2 separate regions of the Homo sapiens genome follow, and region 1 is linked to region 2. Evidence: fine-mapped QTL for protein levels in blood plasma. A gene starts in region 2. The other region holds a variant in brackets. All regions are shown on one strand. Distances are from middle to middle.

Region 1 (8,384 bases), 16 kb after region 2:
GGGCACTTCCTGTATGCCCAGCACATGGAGTCTCCCCTAACTTTCACGGCTGTAGCATTCGCCTCCCACCCTTCCTCATTTCTTCTCCCCCACCTACTCATTCACCCTCCCTCTCTCCTCCTTCTCTTCCCCTCCCCTGGTTTACCCTGAGAGCCTTCGACGCCCTCTATCAGCTGCCCAGTTATTCTTTAAGTCCCTCTCAGTGTCCCTGCCACTCTGAGTGCTCGGAGGCGATTTGATGAGATTGAGTTTGATCCTGAGTGAGATCAAGACATGGGAGGAGGCTGGGCGCGGTGTTTCACACCTGTAATCCCAGCACTTTGGGAGGCCGAGGCAGGCGGATCATGAGGTCAGGAGATGGAGACCACCCTGGCTAAAACAGTGAAACCCCGTCTCTACTAAAAATACAGAAAATTAGCCGGGCATGTTGTCCCAGCTACTCAGGAGGCCGAGGCAGGAGAATCACTTGAACCAGGGAGGCAGAGGTTGCAGTGAGCTGAGATCGCGCCACTGCACTCCAGCCTGGGCGACAGAGTGGGATTCCATCTCAAAAAAAAAAAAAAAAAGACATGGGAAAAAAAATCAAGCCAGCCCTATTTATATTTCAAACTAGAGGTAACCCCCGAGACCCTGGTCACATTTATAGCTGTGGGACATCCATGTTTTTCTTTTCTTTCTCTCTCTTTTTTTTTTTTCCTTTTAGAGACAGAGTCTTGCTGCGCCACCCAGGCTGCAGTGCAGTGGTGCAATCATAGCTCACTGCAGCCTTGACCTCCTGGACTCAAGTGATCCTTCTACCTCAGCCTCCAGAGTAGCTGGGACTACAGGCATGGACAACTACACCTGGCTAATTTTTAAATTTTTTGTAGAGATGACATCTCACTATGTTGCCCAGGCTGGTCTCAAACTCCTGGGCTGAAGCGATCGGCCTCCCAGAGTGCTGGGATCATAGGTGTGAGCCACCGCGTCTGGCTCTCATGCTTGCTTTTCTCTCCTTTTTCCCTTCCTTGCTTTTCCTCCCTCCCTCCCTCCCTTCCTCTCTTCCTTCCTTTTTTTCCTTCCTTCTTTTTAAATATGTCTCTTCATGTGTGGAGATTAATAGTGATCCCTGGCTGGGCACGGTGGCTCACGCCTGTAATCCCAGCACTTTGGGAGGCCGAGGCGGGCGGATCACAAGGTCAGGAGTTCGAGACCAGCCTGGCCAATATGGTGAAACCCTGTCTGTACCAAAAATACAAAAAAATTAGCTGCGCATGGTGGTGCAAGCCTGTAATCCCAGCTACTTGGGAGGCTGAGGCAGGAGAATTGCTTGAACCGGGGAGGTGGAGGTTGCAGTGAGCCGAGATTGCGCCACTGCACTCCAGCCTGGATGACAGAGTGAGACTCCGTCTCCAAAAAAAAAAAACCCAAAAATAGTGATCCCCTGAATACAATGGCTGTGGTAGGGCCTGATGAGGGGTGGGGGCAAAGGGGAGGGGCTCAGGTGGCAGCATCAGGGCAGGGGTCAGTGAGCAATGATAGTCATGTGGAGGAGAAAGCCACTGGGTCCTAGGATGCCTGGGGACAGAGAAGAGTGACTGCTGACACGGCGTGGGTGACTAGAGACCCACGAGGCCCCCCCATACTCCCCTTCCTCCCTTGCTACCTTGTCCTCCATCTGCTCTCACCCTCCCACTCCTGCCCCCTTGCCAAGTGATGCTTGTCACTCCTTTTTTTTTTGAAATGGAGTTTCGCTCTGTCGCCCAGGCTGGAGTGCAGTGGTGCCATCTCAGCTCACTGCAAGCTCCGCCTCCCGGGTTCACGCCATTCTCCTGCCTCAGCCTCCCGAGTAGCTGGGACTACAGGCGCCTGCAACCATGCCCGGCTAACTTTTTGTATTTTTTAGTAGAGATGGGGTTTCACCGTGTTAGCCAGGATGGTCTCGATCTCCTGACCTCGTGATCCACCCGCCTCGGCCTCCCAAAGTGCTGGGATTACAGGCGTGAGCCACCAAGCCCAGCCCTGCTTGTCACTCTTGAGGAGTGGGCCCACATCAGAACAGCTTTTGGACCTATGGGTGGGGCGGGGGGTGTACCCAAGAGCACCCAAGCCTCTTTAATCATGAGGAGAACCCCCAATTCCTTTTTTTTTGAGACAGAGTCTTGCTCAGTCGCCCAGGCTGGAGTGCAGTGGCATGACTTCGGCTCACCACAACCTCTGCCTCCCGGGTTCAAGTGGTTCTCCTTCCTCAGCCTCCCTATAGTCCCTGATTCCTTCTATTTTTTTTTTTTTTTTTTGAGACGGAGTCTCGCTCTTGTTGCCCAGGCTGGAGTGCAATGGTGCAATCTCAGGTCATGGCAACCTTCACTTCCCAGGTTCAAGCAATTCTCCTGCCTCAGCCTCTCGAGTAGCTGGGATTACAGGCATGCGCCTCCACGCCTGGCTAATTTTGTTATTTTTAGTAGAGACAGGGTTTCTCCATGTTGGTCAGGCTGGTCTCGAACTCACGACCTCAGGTGATCCACCCACTTCGGCCTCCCAAAGTGCTGGGATTACAGGCGTGAGCCACCACGTCTGGCTTCTTTTTCTTTTTTTCCCCCGAGACGGAGTCTTGCTCTGTTGCCCAGGCTGGAGTGCAGTGGCGCGATCTCAGCTCACTGCAACCTCCGTCTCCCAGGTTCAAGCAATTCTTCTGCCTCAGCCTCCTGAGTAGCTGGGATTACAGGTGCTTGCCAGCACGCCTGGCTAATTTTTGTATTTTTAGTAGAGACGGGGTTTCACTATGTTGGCCAGGCTGGTCTTGAACTCCTGACCTCCTAATCCACCTGCCTTGGCCTCCCCAAATCCTGGGATTACAGGCATGAGCCATCGTGCCCAGCCCCTGATTCCTTCTTTTTTTTTCTTTCTTTTTTTTTTTAGACGGAGTCTCGCTCTGTCGCCCAGGCTGGAGTGCAGTGGCGCGATCTTGGCTTACTGCAAGCTCCGCCTCCCGGGTTCACGCCATTCTCCTGCCTCAGCCTCCTGAGTAGCTGGGACTACAGGGGCCCGCCACCATGCCCGGCTAATAATAATGTTGTATTTTTAGTAGAGATGGGGTTTCACTGTGTTAGCCAGGGTGGTCTCGATCTGACCTCGTGATCTGCCTGCCTTGGCCTCCCAAAGTGCTGAGATTACAGGCATGAGCCACTGTGCCCAGCCCTGATTCCTTCTTGATATCACTACATCTTTGTCCTCTAGGGACCTCGGACCGTCCCCCAGACCCACTGGAGCCACCGTCACTTCCTGCTGAGAGGCCAGGGCCCCCCACACCTGCTGCGGCCCACAGCATCCCCTACAACAGCTGCAGAGAGAAGGAGCCAAGTTACCCCATGCCTGTCCAGGAGACCCAGGCGCCAGAGTCCCCAGGAGAGGTCTGTCCTCATAGTCTACCTTGAGCCACCACTTTTGTGTTCCTATCTGCCCACTTCTGCCCATTGAGCCTTCCAGAAACCCTCTCCCGTCCCCTATAAATCACGCCTAATCTCTGCTCAGAACCCTAGGGCTTCCTCAGTGGGGATCTGCCCCAGACCAGCTTCCAGGCTGCTGACCAGGTCTTCACCCTGTGGCAGCCCTAATCCTCTGTCAGCAACCAGCTGGGAGACCACAGTTTTGTGTGTGTGTGTGTGTGTGTGTGTGACAGTGTCTCATTCTGTCACCCAGGCTGGAGTGCAGTGGAGTGATCTTGGCTCACTGCAACCTCTGCCTCCTGGGTTCAGGTCATTCTCCTGCCTCAGCCTCCTGAGTAGCTGGGATTACAGGCACCCACCACCACGCCCAGCTAATTTTTGTATTTTTAGTAGAGATGGGGTTTTGCCGTGTCAGCCAGGCTGGTCTCGAACTCCTGACCTCAGGTGATCTGCCCACCTTTGCCTCCCAAAGTGCTGGGATTACAGGCGTGAGCCACCGCACCTGGCAATGCTGTGTGTTTTCTGTGAGGTAGACGTAAGGACACCTGTGGACAGAGGGTCTGGGAATTACCAGAACCCAGGCAAGGGCTCCCCTGGCTCCTGTGCTCCATGGTGTGGGCTGAGGCCTATAGGAGATGCCCCAAGAGCACAAGCTGCCCTTTGTGAGCTCTTGGGAGAGGCAACTGCCTTATTCATATTTTCCCTCATTGCAGAATTCAGAGCAAGCCCTGCAGACGCTCAGCCCCAGAGCCATCCCAAGGAATCCAGATGGTGGCCCCCTGGAGTCCTCCTCTGACCTGGCAGCCCTCAGCCCTCTGACCTCCAGCGGGCATCAGGAGCAGGACACAGAACTGGGCAGTACCCACACAGCAGGTATGCATGGAATCTGGAATTATAGGGTCCTTCTGATCTCTCAAGTGAGGGTAAGAATTAGAGTTGCCCCATCTGGCTTCCTTGAACAGGAGACAAGGTGGGAATAAAGGGAGTTCAACCCAGGAAGCAAACCAGTTCCTTAGTGGGTGTATCAGTTAGCATTTGCTGTGTAACAAATAGTCCACTCCAGTTTTCCAAATTTTTTTTTTAGTAGCTTAAAATACAGCCATTTATTTAGCATATGATCCTGTGGGTCAGGCATTTGGGCTACCTACATGGGCATTTCTTCTGGTCTTGGCTGAATTTCCTCTCAAGTACTCACCGGTATATACATAAGTTCTGCCTCTGGCTGTTTGCTGAGCACCTTGGTTCTCTTCTATGTAGTCTCTCATCCTCCAGCACACAAACCCATCATGGCAGCTGGGCAGAGTTCTCAGAGAGGGCTCAAAACTGGCACAGTGTCCCCTGTGCTCCATTCTGTGGGCAAAAGCAAGTTATAAGGCCAGCCTAGATTCAAGGAGTAGGGAAATAGACTCCCTCCCTAGACGGGAGGACTGACAGGCACAGTGCAGTGGGGCTGGGTGGAGATGAGCGAGATAAGTAGGGCCATTTTTGCGCTCTGCCAAAGGGACTGTAGGGAACAGCCAGGGCCTATAGGGCAGTGGGAGAGGGACAGTGAAGGGCTGCATCAGCTGTTGGCAGGGGAACCTTTAGGCACTGTCTTACCGCAGAGATCTCCAGTTCCCAGTGAATCATGAAAACTTCTCAGTCCCCAGAGGAAGTAAGGTCTTCATCATCCAGTGGCCTGGACTCAACTCCAGATGTCAGTGCTCCCCCTCAGAAATATATAGTTGTCCATCTGGACCTCTCAGGCCAGCATGTCTCTTTCCTACTTCCCAAACTATTCCACATGACGCTGGTGCCCAGTCAGCCCTCAGTGCCCTGGGACAGCCACAAGACACATGAGCAGTTAGAGGCTGGGAGACGTCATCTTAGTACTTTTGTCATCCCCAAACTGCTCCAAGCACCTGTCTGCTTTGCAGTGTCACCTGGCCACGGGATGCCTTTCAGGAGTTGCTGTAGACCACAGAGGCAGAGGGCGCTTAGGTTTCAGTACGTTTGTAGACACAGGTCCCATGAGATTCTGTGGTATTAGATTGTGGTGGGGGAGCTGTACATCAGAATCACCCTGACTTTTGCCAGCTGTGGGGCTTGGCATGTGCATTCCGAGTTCCGTGGAGAGTCCTGCTGCAACTGCCTTTACAGACCATCACCACCTGCTATCCTCTGCTTCCCCCACCCAGGTCAGGCAGCCTCCCAGGGGTGGCTTTGTCCTTGTCCCCTCTCTTCCCAAGCCTCCGGGATGGCCAGGCCTCTCGGCTGGTGTGAGCTGTTCTGCATGAGCCATCCTGCCACCCCTTGCCCTGATCCATGGCTGCTCCCACTCATGGTGGTAGGAGAGGGACAGCAGTGGGGGAAGTGTCCAGGATTGCATGAGGCTAAGGTCAAAGTAGAAAAGGTAGACACAGGAGAGGGGAGGTTTCCCAGGTGGGAGAGGAAAAAGCGGAGAGAATAATTAATAATGGTCTTCAGGCTCCTAGGTACCATTTCACTGTGTGCCAGGACAGACCTGGGGCTACAGGTCAAGGACTGAGGGCAGCTGTTGGGCTTTCAGGCCAGGAAGCAGTGACCAAAGGGACTGTGGCATCTCCTCCAAGGGCAGGAGATTTGGAGGCCTAGACACAGTAGGGACCATGAGATCTGGGCCAGAGGGACCCTTCTCCAGGCCTCAAGGTAATGGTCTTTGGGTCTGTGTTTCCACTTGTGTTTTTCCACCGGCAGGTGCGACCTCCAGCCTCACACCATCC[C/T]GTGGGCCTGTGTCTCCATCTGTCTCCTTCCAGCCCCTGGCCCGTTCCACCCCCAGGGCAAGCCGCTTGCCTGGACCCACAGGGTCAGTTGTATCTACTGGCACCTCCTTCTCCTCCTCATCCCCTGGCTTGGCCTCTGCAGGGGCTGCAGAGGGTAAACAGGGTGCAGAGAGTGACCAGGCCGAGCCTATCATCTGCTCCAGTGGGGCAGAGGCACCTGCCAACTCTCTGCCCTCCAAAGTGCCTACCACCTTGATGCCTGTGAACACAGTGGCCCTGAAAGTGCCTGCCAACCCAGCATCTGTCAGCACAGTGCCCTCCAAGTTGCCAACTAGCTCAAAGCCCCCTGGTGCAGTGCCTTCTAATGCGCTCACCAATCCAGCACCATCCAAATTGCCCATCAACTCAACCCGTGCTGGCATGGTGCCATCCAAAGTGCCTACTAGCATGGTGCTCACCAAGGTGTCTGCCAGCACAGTCCCCACTGACGGGAGCAGCAGAAATGAGGTGAGTCCTCGCCCTTCCTGGCAGGGATCCTGGCCCCTTCCCCCGGGACAGCTTGCCCACCTGGCCCTGGCCTTGGCCCCTTCCCAGTCTGCATTCTGTGTCCAGCCTGTGCTGCTCTGTGGCCTCTCCTTGAGGGCATACAGACAGTTGAGAACCAGCCTCATGCAGGCCCCACACCATGTTCTCCAGGAGGAACAGTCATTGAGCTTCTAAGTCTGGACACCTCAGGAGGGTCAGCCACAGGGGGCACCCACTGGTCAGGTGTATAAGTTCATTTAGGGCTCGTAGTTCCTAGTGAAGCCGAGCGGTGCCGTTTTGCACATAAGGAAGCAGTGACGGGGACAGCACAGTGGCCCATCTGCCTCTTGCCTTGCTCTTCACCAGGATGCCTGGTGTGTCCCTCCATGGCCAGGCTTTACAGAACGCAGTCCCACCTGGAGCAGCCACTCGGACCCAGCAGCCCCCCATTGTTGCCTGCTCCAAGCCTCACATCTAACCCTAGCTGCGGCTGTCTGCTGGGAAGAGCCAAGTCCATAGGGCCCTTTGGGCACATGGCCAGGCCTCTGACCCTGTGGCTGCTCTCTAGTTCTCAGGCCCAGGCAGGATGTCAGTGCAGGATGGAGCCCCGCCCTACCAAAGGCTTCCAGGTGGGCATGAGCTCACAGGCAGGCCAGGGAGTAGGGAAAGGCTGCCCTGGAGGAGGCCACCATTGGTGCAGATTCTTGGTCCCCTCTACCCCCACTGCTCCAAGAAAAGGTGGCCTAGGGGCATTATAGATTGGGAATTGAGGGGTTGGAGTGTTAGTTCATGCCCTGGCCTGGGAATGGGACCGCCCTACCAGGTTCGTCTCCCTGCCAACCCCAGTCCCTTCCAGTGCTCTCCTTTCTTTCCCAGGAGACCCCAGCAGCTCCAACACCCGCCGGCGCCACTGGAGGCAGCTCAGCCTGGCTAGACAGCAGCTCTGAGAATAGGGGCCTTGGGTCGGAGCTGAGTAAGCCTGGCGTGCTGGCATCCCAGGTAGACAGCCCGTTCTCGGGCTGCTTCGAGGATCTTGCCATCAGTGCCAGCACCTCCTTGGGCATGGGGCCCTGCCATGGCCCAGAGGAGAATGAGTATAAGTCCGAGGGCACCTTTGGGATCCACGTGGCTGAGAACCCCAGCATCCAGCTCCTGGAGGGCAACCCTGGGCCACCTGCGGACCCGGATGGCGGCCCCAGGCCACAAGCCGACCGGAAGTTCCAGGAGAGGGAGGTGCCATGCCACAGGCCCTCACCTGGGGCTCTGTGGCTCCAGGTGGCTGTGACAGGGGTGCTGGTAGTCACACTCCTGGTGGTGCTGTACCGGCGGCGTCTGCACTAGTGAAGCCCTGGGCTCTTCCCACCACCCATCTGTTCCGTTCCTGCAGTACACCTGGCCCCTCTCCGAAGCCCCTTGTCCCTTTCTTGGGGATTGTGGAGGCTGGGTCAGAGGGGAGTTAAGGGACTGCAGGCCTGGCAGCAGGACATGCCTTGGCTGAACCAAGTCCTGAGAGCAGCATCTCTGTCCCCACGGTGCCTTGTGTGGGTCCCCGTCCTTGGCTTTCTGGGTCCTGGGCTGCCCCCAGTGCTCCAGACCTTCCCCACTGGCAATCCAGGTTATCATCCATGTCCTCCAGAGGAGCTTCCTCCTCCAGGCCTCAGCCCTGTTGGCCCAGGTGGAGCAGGAGGGACCA
Region 2 (8,461 bases):
CAGAAGCTGGGAGCGTGGAGGGACGTGACCAGGGAGAAGTCCCCTGTGTTGGGGGAGGCCTGTGAATTTTAGGAACTCTGATATCTAACTCTCAAGGCATGTCCTTGCCAAGCAGCAATACAATTAAGTGTGCCTAATCTTATGGCTCCCACACTTTCAATTGTTCTTCCTGAAACAATTAGATATGAAGCCGCAAGAGCCCAGGCAGGGCTGGATTGATTCTTGAACTAATCAACATTTATGCCCTCTTGGCTAAACTAGGCAGAGTTGGTTTTATTACAGTTCAGATGTGATTAAGCACACTGTATTGTGTCAGCGGCAGGTGACGAGCCACACAGTGTCCTGAGGCCTGATGAAAGGGCTATGCCAACCACAGTCCCAGAGGAGGAGCTGGCTGTAGCAGCGACTGACCCAGGAGCTGAAGTGAGCCAAGCCCCCTCCTCCTGAGACCCCTGAGAGGTAAGGCAGGCTCATGCCAGACCCTATTACGTCCCACATCATGGCTAGAACCAGAACCATCTTACATGGCTGGTCAAGGCAAGGATAACCCCAGGAAGTCAGAGGACTTGGAGACTCTGTATTGTAGGAAAAAAAAAAAATACTAGAAAAGACACTGGAGCGTCACCAGCAGTCACCCCTGGATGGTGGCATTATTATTATTAGTAGTATTTTTTTTGAGATGGAGTCACTCTGTCGCCCAGGCTGGAGTGCAGTGGCATGATCTTGGCTCACTGTAACCTCCGTTTCCTGGGTTCAGGCAATTCTCCTGCCTTAGTCTCCTGAGTAGCTGGGATTACAGATGTGTGCCACCATGACTGGCTAATTTTTGTAGATGGTGGCATTATGAATATGGATTTTGGTTTTCATCATCAAATATTTCTGTTTTCCCCACATTAGCTGTAAACAGTATATATTTTTGGTAAATTAAGTTGAAAGAATGAAAAAATTAAAATAGTATAAAGAATATCTGTTTAAGTGCAGTGGAGTGTGCCTGTGGTCCTAGCTACTTCGGAGGCTTAGATGGAAGGATTGCTTGAGCCCAGGAGTTCAAGACCAACCAGAGCAATGTAGCAAGACTGTGTCTGTTTTATTTTAAAAATAAATAAATAAAACATAAAGAATAACTGTTTAAAATACTATTCAAAATGAAGTCATAAAGGAGGGGATTATGTTTTTTAGTCATAGTTCCCTCAAGGGCTCAGACCGGAGAACATAACCGAGTTTGGAGCCCTCTGGCACTGTCTTTGCGCCTGACCTCTGCTCTCCAGGGGGTGACGTGAGCTGGTGGGTGCTGAGTCATCATGGGTGGGTCACAGCCTCCCTCGGAGGCCTGGAGATGGGCCTGTCTGTGCTGAACTTTACTGGGCAGGGGGCAGCTCCAAGGCCCTCACTGGGGGCAGCCTAGAGCATAGATCACTCTCTGGACTTGCTCTTCTCCTAATAAATGGACAGTGATCAATGAATTACACCCATGAAATAGGGTGGGATGCAATAAGAAATAAAAGATAATATAAATAGCCAGATAGGGTCAAAAGATGATTTATTTTACTTTATATTTTTGAAATAATTTCAGATTTACAACATAGTTGCAAAAATAATGCAAATGTTTACATCTTACATAACCCAGTACAATGATCCTAACACTGACAGATTGTTGTTGTTGTTGTTAATTTGAGACAGAGTTTCACTGTTGTTGCCCAAGCTGGAGTGCAATGGTGCGATCTCGGCTCACTGCCGCCTCTGCCTCCCGGGTTCAAGCGATTCTCCTACCTCAGCCTCCTGAGTAGCTGGGATTGCAGGTGCCCACCACCATGCCTGGCTGATTTTTGTATTTTTAGTAGAGACAGGGTTTCACCATGTTGTCCAGGCTGGTTTCAAACTCCTGACCTCAGGTGATCCACCCACCTCGGCGTCCCAAAGTGCTGGAATTAGAGGCGTGAGCCACCATGCCCAGCTAGATTATTGTTAACTGATCCAAAAGCCTTATTTGGATTTCACCTGAAGTCCTTTTTCTGTTTCAGGATCCAACCCAGGTTCCCATATTGCATTCAGTTGTCATGTCACTTTGGTGTCCTTTTCTCTGGAGCAGTCTCTCAGTCTCCTTGTTTTTCCTGACCTTGAAATTTTTGAAGAGTTATTCTGCAGAGCAGTGCTATCCAATAGAACTTTCAGTGATGATAGAAATGCTCTGTTTGGGCCTGACGCTGTGGCTCACACCTGTAATCCCAGAACTTTGGGAGGCTGAGGCAGGCAGATCACCTGAGGTCGGGAGTTTGAGACCAACCTGGCCAAGGTGGAGAAACCCCGTGTCTACTAAAAATGCAAAATTAGCTGGGCATGGTGGTGCATGCCTATAATCCCAGCTACTCGGGAGGCTGAGGCAGGAGAATCGCTTGAACCTGGGAGGCAGAGGTTGTGGTGAGCCGAGATCACGCCATTGTACTCCAACCTCAACAACAAGAGTGAAACTCTGTCTCAAAACAAAACAAACAAAAAAAATAGAAATGCTCTGTGTCACCGAGTATGAAGCCATTAGCTACATGAAAATAGCATTTGAAATGTGGCTCATGGGCCAGGTGCAGTGGCTCACGCCTGTAATCCCAGCACTTTGGGAGGCCAAGGTGGGTGGATCACTTGAGGTCAGGAGTTTGAGACCTGCCTGGCCCATATGGTGAAACCTCGTCTCTACTAAAAATACAAAAATTGGCCGGGCGTGGTGACATGCGCCTGTAGTCCCAGCTACTCGTGAGGCTGAGGCAGGAGAATCACTTGAACCCGGGAGGCGGAGGTTGCAGTGAGCCGAGATTGGGCCACTGCACTCCAGCCTGGGTGAAAGAGTGAGATTCTGTTTCAAAAAAAAAAAAAAAAAAAAAAAAGAGAAATGTGGCTCGTGGGTCTCAGGAACTGGCTTCTAAGTATTATTTAATTTTAATTAAAATAGCTACATGTGGCTAGTAGCCATTGTATTGGATAGGACAGCTGTCAAATGTCTCTCGTTTTGGGTTTGCTTACTGTTTCCCTATGATTAGTTTCAGATCATGAGCTTTTGATAGGAATACCATAAGCATGTTGTTGTGTTCTTCTTTGTCTAAATCTTTATAAAAGCTGTTGATAGGTGGCAGGGAACCACCTAGTCAGGCAGTGGGATTGTTTGAATGCTCTTTGAGGTCCAGCAAAGACAGGAGTGATAGCTGCACTTGGAAGCCCGCTCCTACACTTTCAATGTTCTTCCTGAAAGAATTAGATATGAAGCTGCTAGAGCTGCTCCGGTGGGGAGCAGGCAGGATTGATTCTTGAACTAATCAACATTTATGCCCTCTTGGCTAAACTAGGCAGAGCTGGTTTTATTACAGTTCAGGTGTGATTAAGCATACTTTGTAAATGCTGAAGGTTGTGAAATATTCACAGGGATATAAAGTACAGTAATAAAACCTCACTTGAGGCTGGGCGTAGTGGCTCACGCCTGTAATCCCAGCACTTTGGGAGGCCGAGGTGGGAGGATCACCTGAGGTCAGGAGTTTGAGACCAGCCTGGCCAACATGGTGAAACTCCGTCTCTACTAAAAATACAAAAATTAGCCGGGCGCAGTGGCATGTGCCTGTAATCTCAGCTACTTGGGAGGCTGAGGCAGGAGAATTGCTTGAACCCAGGAGGTGGAGGTTGCAGTGAGCCGAGATCGCGCCATTGTACTCCAGCCTGGGCGACAGAGCATGACTCTGTCTCAAAAAAAAAAAAAAAAAAAAAGAATAGAAGACCCTGTGCCTGGAAGATCGTAGGTGCTCAGTAAGTGCTGGCCTCTGCCCCAGAAGGGGAAGGGCGAGGCAGATGGCAGGAACTGCGGGAGGTACCTGTCCCAGGCCCTTGGGCGTAAGAGGCCTCTCCCACGCAGCACCCAACCCATACCCAGCCTGCCCGCCAGCCAACCTTGGCGTCCCTGCCTTGCGCCTACCTACCCAGCAGTCCCCCGCCCGCTCCCACTCCCACAGGCCCAGCGTGCACGTCTCCAGGATAGGCATCCTTGCCCCTGTGACTTCAGCGGCACCCAACGTTTATTGGGCACTAACTGTATGCCAGGCCATGGGGGTGCCGGAGAGAACGACACGAAGACCCTCACCCCTCAAAGTTCCCAGGGGGAGGAGGGGCTGCTTCACTTGGGAAGCGTGGGGATGGAATTCTCAGCCCCCCGATGACTCCGAGGCCGGCCACCTGCCTGGTTTCTGGCCGGACACCGGACTTCCCCTGGAAGTTGCTCGAGACTGCGCGCCCCCAGCAAAAAATCAGGTCGGTTCTCCGAGCCCAGTCTAGCGCTTCCCGACCCGCAAACCAAGGCCCAGTGACCGTCCCCGCTGCGCAGCCGCCTGCGTCGCCAGCCAACCACGCGCGGCCGAGTAGCCCCGCCCCTCCACATGGCCAATGGCCGCGCGCTCTGCCCGCCCCGCCTCCTCGCTGCGGGAAGGGTCCTGGGCCCCGGGCGGCGGTCGCCAGGTCTCAGGGCCGGGGGTACCCGAGGTAAGATCGCTTCCCGGGCGTTGGGTCCTTTCGGCTCAGCACGCACGGACGCCTTTAGGGAAGGTGGCTGCAGCGGCAGGACGGAGTCCGCCGGGACGCCCTGGGTCTGGGGTGCGCGGGGGGCCCAGGAGGGGACAGGACGCGCGGGGATCCGGAAGAGCGGGCCCTGTCGCAAGAGTTTCGGGAACACTGAGGGCTCCAGGCGCCGCATCCAGCATCCGGGGAAAAGGGGGTAGGTGGCGCTGGGCGTCTGCTCAGGCTGGGGGAAAGGTAGGGCCAGAAGGGGACGGGCAGCGGCCGCTGACCTCCTCCTGCCGCCCGCGGGCCCAGGGTGACGCTAAGGTGGGGCCGAGCCTCGACCGGGTGCGCCTAGAGGTCGAGTGCTGCCGCCCTCCGCTGGGTCTGGACAGTTCTCGGCGGCGACACCAGCTCAAAACGGCCTCCCCGCCCTCCGCGGACCTGGGTCGCGCCCAGGAATCCGATCCAAGGCTGTGAGGCCTGTCCCTTTGGGAAGGGTGGGTGTTTATTTCCGGGATGCACTCAGAGCCTCTGGACAGTCAGGTCGGAAACTTTGCTGTATTGGGAACACTCTGTCACCTACTTCCTTCTCAGTTGGGAAGGAAGTGCCAAGAAAACATGAAACAAACCAAAAACACGAAAAAGGGATTCTCTGTATGGAAGCCGTGAAGCCTCAAAAATATCTAGGAGGACAGCCAGCGACCTGGGACCTGTGGCAGCCATGTGAAAGCAGGGTTAATGTCTGGACTAAATGTTGCTTCCACCTAAGTGCACCCTCAGCCTCCCTCCCGCCAAGTGACCTTGGGTCCTCTTTGGGCTTGAAGGCAGGTGGCTGTGTGGGTCTCGCTGCAGGGGTCTCTGTGCCCTGCAAGGTGTATGACCAGTTGCAGTGAGGCAGCAGGTTTTGGGTTCAAATCCTGTGCTAGCCTCTGGCCAGCTGTGCACCTTGGCAACACTTTCCCTGTCACGGGATTGGGGAAGGATTAACTGAAAGAACCTTAGGATGTGCCTGTCTACAATGGGCCCTCCATAAATGTGAACAAATGTGGGCTTCCTTTCCTTTTGTTTGGGCCACATCATCCCTTCCCCTCCATCTGTGGCTGAAGCTGGAATGCAGAAGAGTGCCTCATCTGACTGCCTTCTGGTACCTGGCTGATGCCATGAGAAAGGAAGGAGAAAGGGGTCTTTTTTTTTTTGAAATGGAGTCTCACTCTCTTGCCCAGGCTGGAGCGCAGTGGTCCAATCTTGGCTCACTGCAACCTCTGCCTCCTGGGTCTAGAGATTCTCCTGCCTCAGCCTCCTGAGTAGCTGGGACTACAGGTGTGTGCCACCATGCCTGGCTAATTTTTGCATTTTTAGTAGAGACGGGGTTTCACCATGTTGGCCAGGCTGGTCTCAAACTCCTGACCTCAAGTGATCTGCCTGCCTCGGCCTCCCAAAGTGCTGGGATTCCAGGCGTGAGCCACCGCGCCCGGCCGAGAAAGGGATCTATTAACTCCCATAGAGTTGTTCTTTGCTAATTTCTTGAAGGCTCAGAGGACCCCCGCCTCACCTTCCTGATTCTCCTGACCTGTCATTAGTACTTGCCCCACGAGGAATGTAGCAGGGCCTGCTGGCTGGCAAAGCAACTCATGCATGTGAGGCTCTGAGGCCAGTGACAGGACTGCTTCCCCTGTGAGGAAGGTCTGGTGGCCCAACAGCTTTTAGGTGCTGTCTGCTCTACAGCACTGCCTCCTGAGAGAGGTCTCATGCCTGCCTGATGCCCACTTGGTCCTCTCCTGCCTCCTTCCCTCCCTGACAACCCACTTGGAATCCAATAGCATCTCAAACTTCACTTGTTCCGAACTGAGTTCTGGAGTCCCTTCTGAGCCACTGCTCCTCCCCTGGCTTCTCTGGCCTGGTAAAAGGGCACCTTCCATCCACCCAGTGCCCAAGGAGTCATGCTTCTTTTCTCTCCCTTATCTCCTACACCCTCAAAACACCAGGAATCTGGCTGCCTCCTGCCATCTCTGTGGTTCCCATCCTGACCATAGTCATCCTGTCTCCTGGGCTGTGGCCTCCTTACTGGTCTCCCAGTTTTCATCCTGGCCCCTCCAAAGTCCTCACAACCACCAGAGAAGTCTTTAATGTAAATCAGATCCTCTTCTTTCCCTGCCGGAACCTTCCAGTGGTTCCCTGTTTCACTCCAACTAAAACCCAGAGTCCTTTCCTACAGCACTCTACATGAGTGGCCCCTGCCACCTCCTTGACCTTGACAATCTCTGCCCCTTTCCCTAGCTTGCTTGCTTTTTTTTTTTTTTTTCCTATGATGGAGTTTTGATCTTGTCACCCAGGCTGGAGTGCAATGGGATGATTTCAGCTCACTGCAACCTCTGCCTCCTGGGTTCAAGCGATTCTCCTGCCTCAGCCTCCCGAGTAGCTGGGATTACAGGCGCCCACCACCATGCTAATTTTTGTATTTTTAGTAGAGAAAGGGTTTCACCATGTTGGCGAGGCTGGTCTCAACCTCCTGAGCTCAGGTGATCCACCCGCCTAGGCCTCCCAAAGTGCTGGGATTATAGGCGTGAGTCACGCAGCCAGCCATCCCTAGCTTTCTTGACCTAGACCACACTGACCTGCTTTCTATTCTTCAAACATGCCAAGCTCATTCTTGTTTTAGGACTTTTGCATTTACCATGCTCTCTGCCTAAAACACCAATCTTCTCAGAGCCTGAGAACAGCTCAGCTGTGTTCTGCACGCTAGTTCAGAAAGGCTTCTTTGACCCCCTAGTTCAAGTAGCATGCCTGTCTCCAGGGGCTCTGTCTCATTACCTGCTTTACTTTCTTTAGAGCCTTTATTGCTATCTGGAACTCTTATTTGGGTATTAATTTACTGATCTGTTATTTGTCCCACCCCATTAGAATATAAATTGGATGTGGCATAGACCTTGTCTCTTTTATTCCCTGCAGCACTCCCTGATGGGGGCGGCAGAAAAGTAACGAGCAAATACATCTATAACTGCAAATTGTGGTAACTCCTACATAAACAACTGGCAGCAATTGCTTATATTTGAGGCACTTAAAAATTTTTAAGCTGGCTGGGCGCGGTGGCTCATGCCTGTAATCCCAGCACTTTGGGAGGCCGAGGCGGGCAGATCACGAGGTCAGGAGATCGAGACCATCCTGGCTAACACGGTGAAACCTGTCTCTACTAAAAATACAAAAAATTAGCCGAGCGTGGTAGCAGGCGCCTGTAGTCCCAGCTACTTGGGAGGCTGAGGCAGGAGAATGGTGTGAACCCGGGAGGCGGAGCTTGCAGTGAGCCGAGATTGCACCACTGCACTCCAGCCTGGGTGAAGGAGCGAGACTGTCTCAAAAAAAAAAAAAAAAAAAAAAAAAGAAATTTTTTTAAGCTGCTGGGCGCGGTGGCTCACGCCTGTAAATCTCAGCACTTTGGGAGGCCGAGGTGAGCGGATCACCTGAGGTCGGGAGTTCGAGACCGGAACATGGTGAAACCCTGTCTCTACTAAAAATACAAAATTAGCGGGGCGTGGTGGCTCATGCCTGTAATCCCAGCTACTTGGGAGGCTGAGGCAGGAGAATCGCTTGAACCCAGGAGGCAGAGGTTGCAGTGAGCCGAGATCGCGCCATTGTACTCCAGCCTGGGCAAAAAGAGTGAACTCCATTTCAAAAAAAAAAAAAAAGGCCAGGCGCAGTGGCTCACGCCTGTAATCCCAGCACTTTGGGAGGCCGAGGCAGGCGGATCACGAGTTCAGGAGATTGAGACCATCCTGGCTAACACGGTGAAACCCTATCTCTACTAAAAATACAAAAAATTAGCCGGGTGTGGTGGCGGGCGCCTGTGGTCCCAGCTACTCGGGAGGCTGAGGCAGGAGAATGGTGTGAACCCAGGAGGTGGAGCTTGCAGTGAGCCGAGATTGCACCACAGCACTCC

Direction of the effects. Positions count from the first base shown, and alleles are read on the strand shown. Strength reflects both the effect of a copy and how common the allele is.
In carriers of allele C in region 1, the plasma level of the protein whose gene starts at base 4,440 in region 2 tends to be higher than with T alone (moderate association).

Evidence for each region. PIP is the posterior inclusion probability: the model's chance that the variant is causal. Protein levels are from antibody-based Olink assays in UK Biobank. Linkage for the fine-mapping came from a reference panel and not from the study's own genotypes, which makes the PIPs less certain.
Region 1: its variant is fine-mapped to the plasma level of the MAVS protein (UK Biobank, PIP above 0.99). The variant lies in the coding sequence of MAVS. If it changes the protein, the assay may bind it differently, which can mimic a change of level.

Annotation. Positions count from the first base shown.
Region 1 is chr20:3,858,116-3,866,499 of GRCh38, forward strand. It overlaps MAVS (mitochondrial antiviral signaling protein), which reads left to right. Exons shown (of 7, transcript NM_020746.5): 4 at 3,217-3,389; 5 at 4,139-4,298; 6 at 6,141-6,673; 7 at 7,568-8,384. The coding sequence ends at 8,032. Among named protein-coding and RNA genes, the nearest start is that of MAVS, 15 kb to the left of the region's middle. RefSeq lists enhancers at 1-56, 7,897-8,384. The variant C/T (reference allele first, on the strand shown) is at 6,167.
Region 2 is chr20:3,842,395-3,850,855 of GRCh38, forward strand. MAVS (mitochondrial antiviral signaling protein) reads left to right here and starts at 4,440. Exons shown (of 7, transcript NM_020746.5): 1 at 4,440-4,509. RefSeq lists enhancers at 1,223-1,367, 2,356-2,495, 8,450-8,461, a cis regulatory region at 1,290-1,300 and silencers at 3,857-3,906, 4,337-4,716.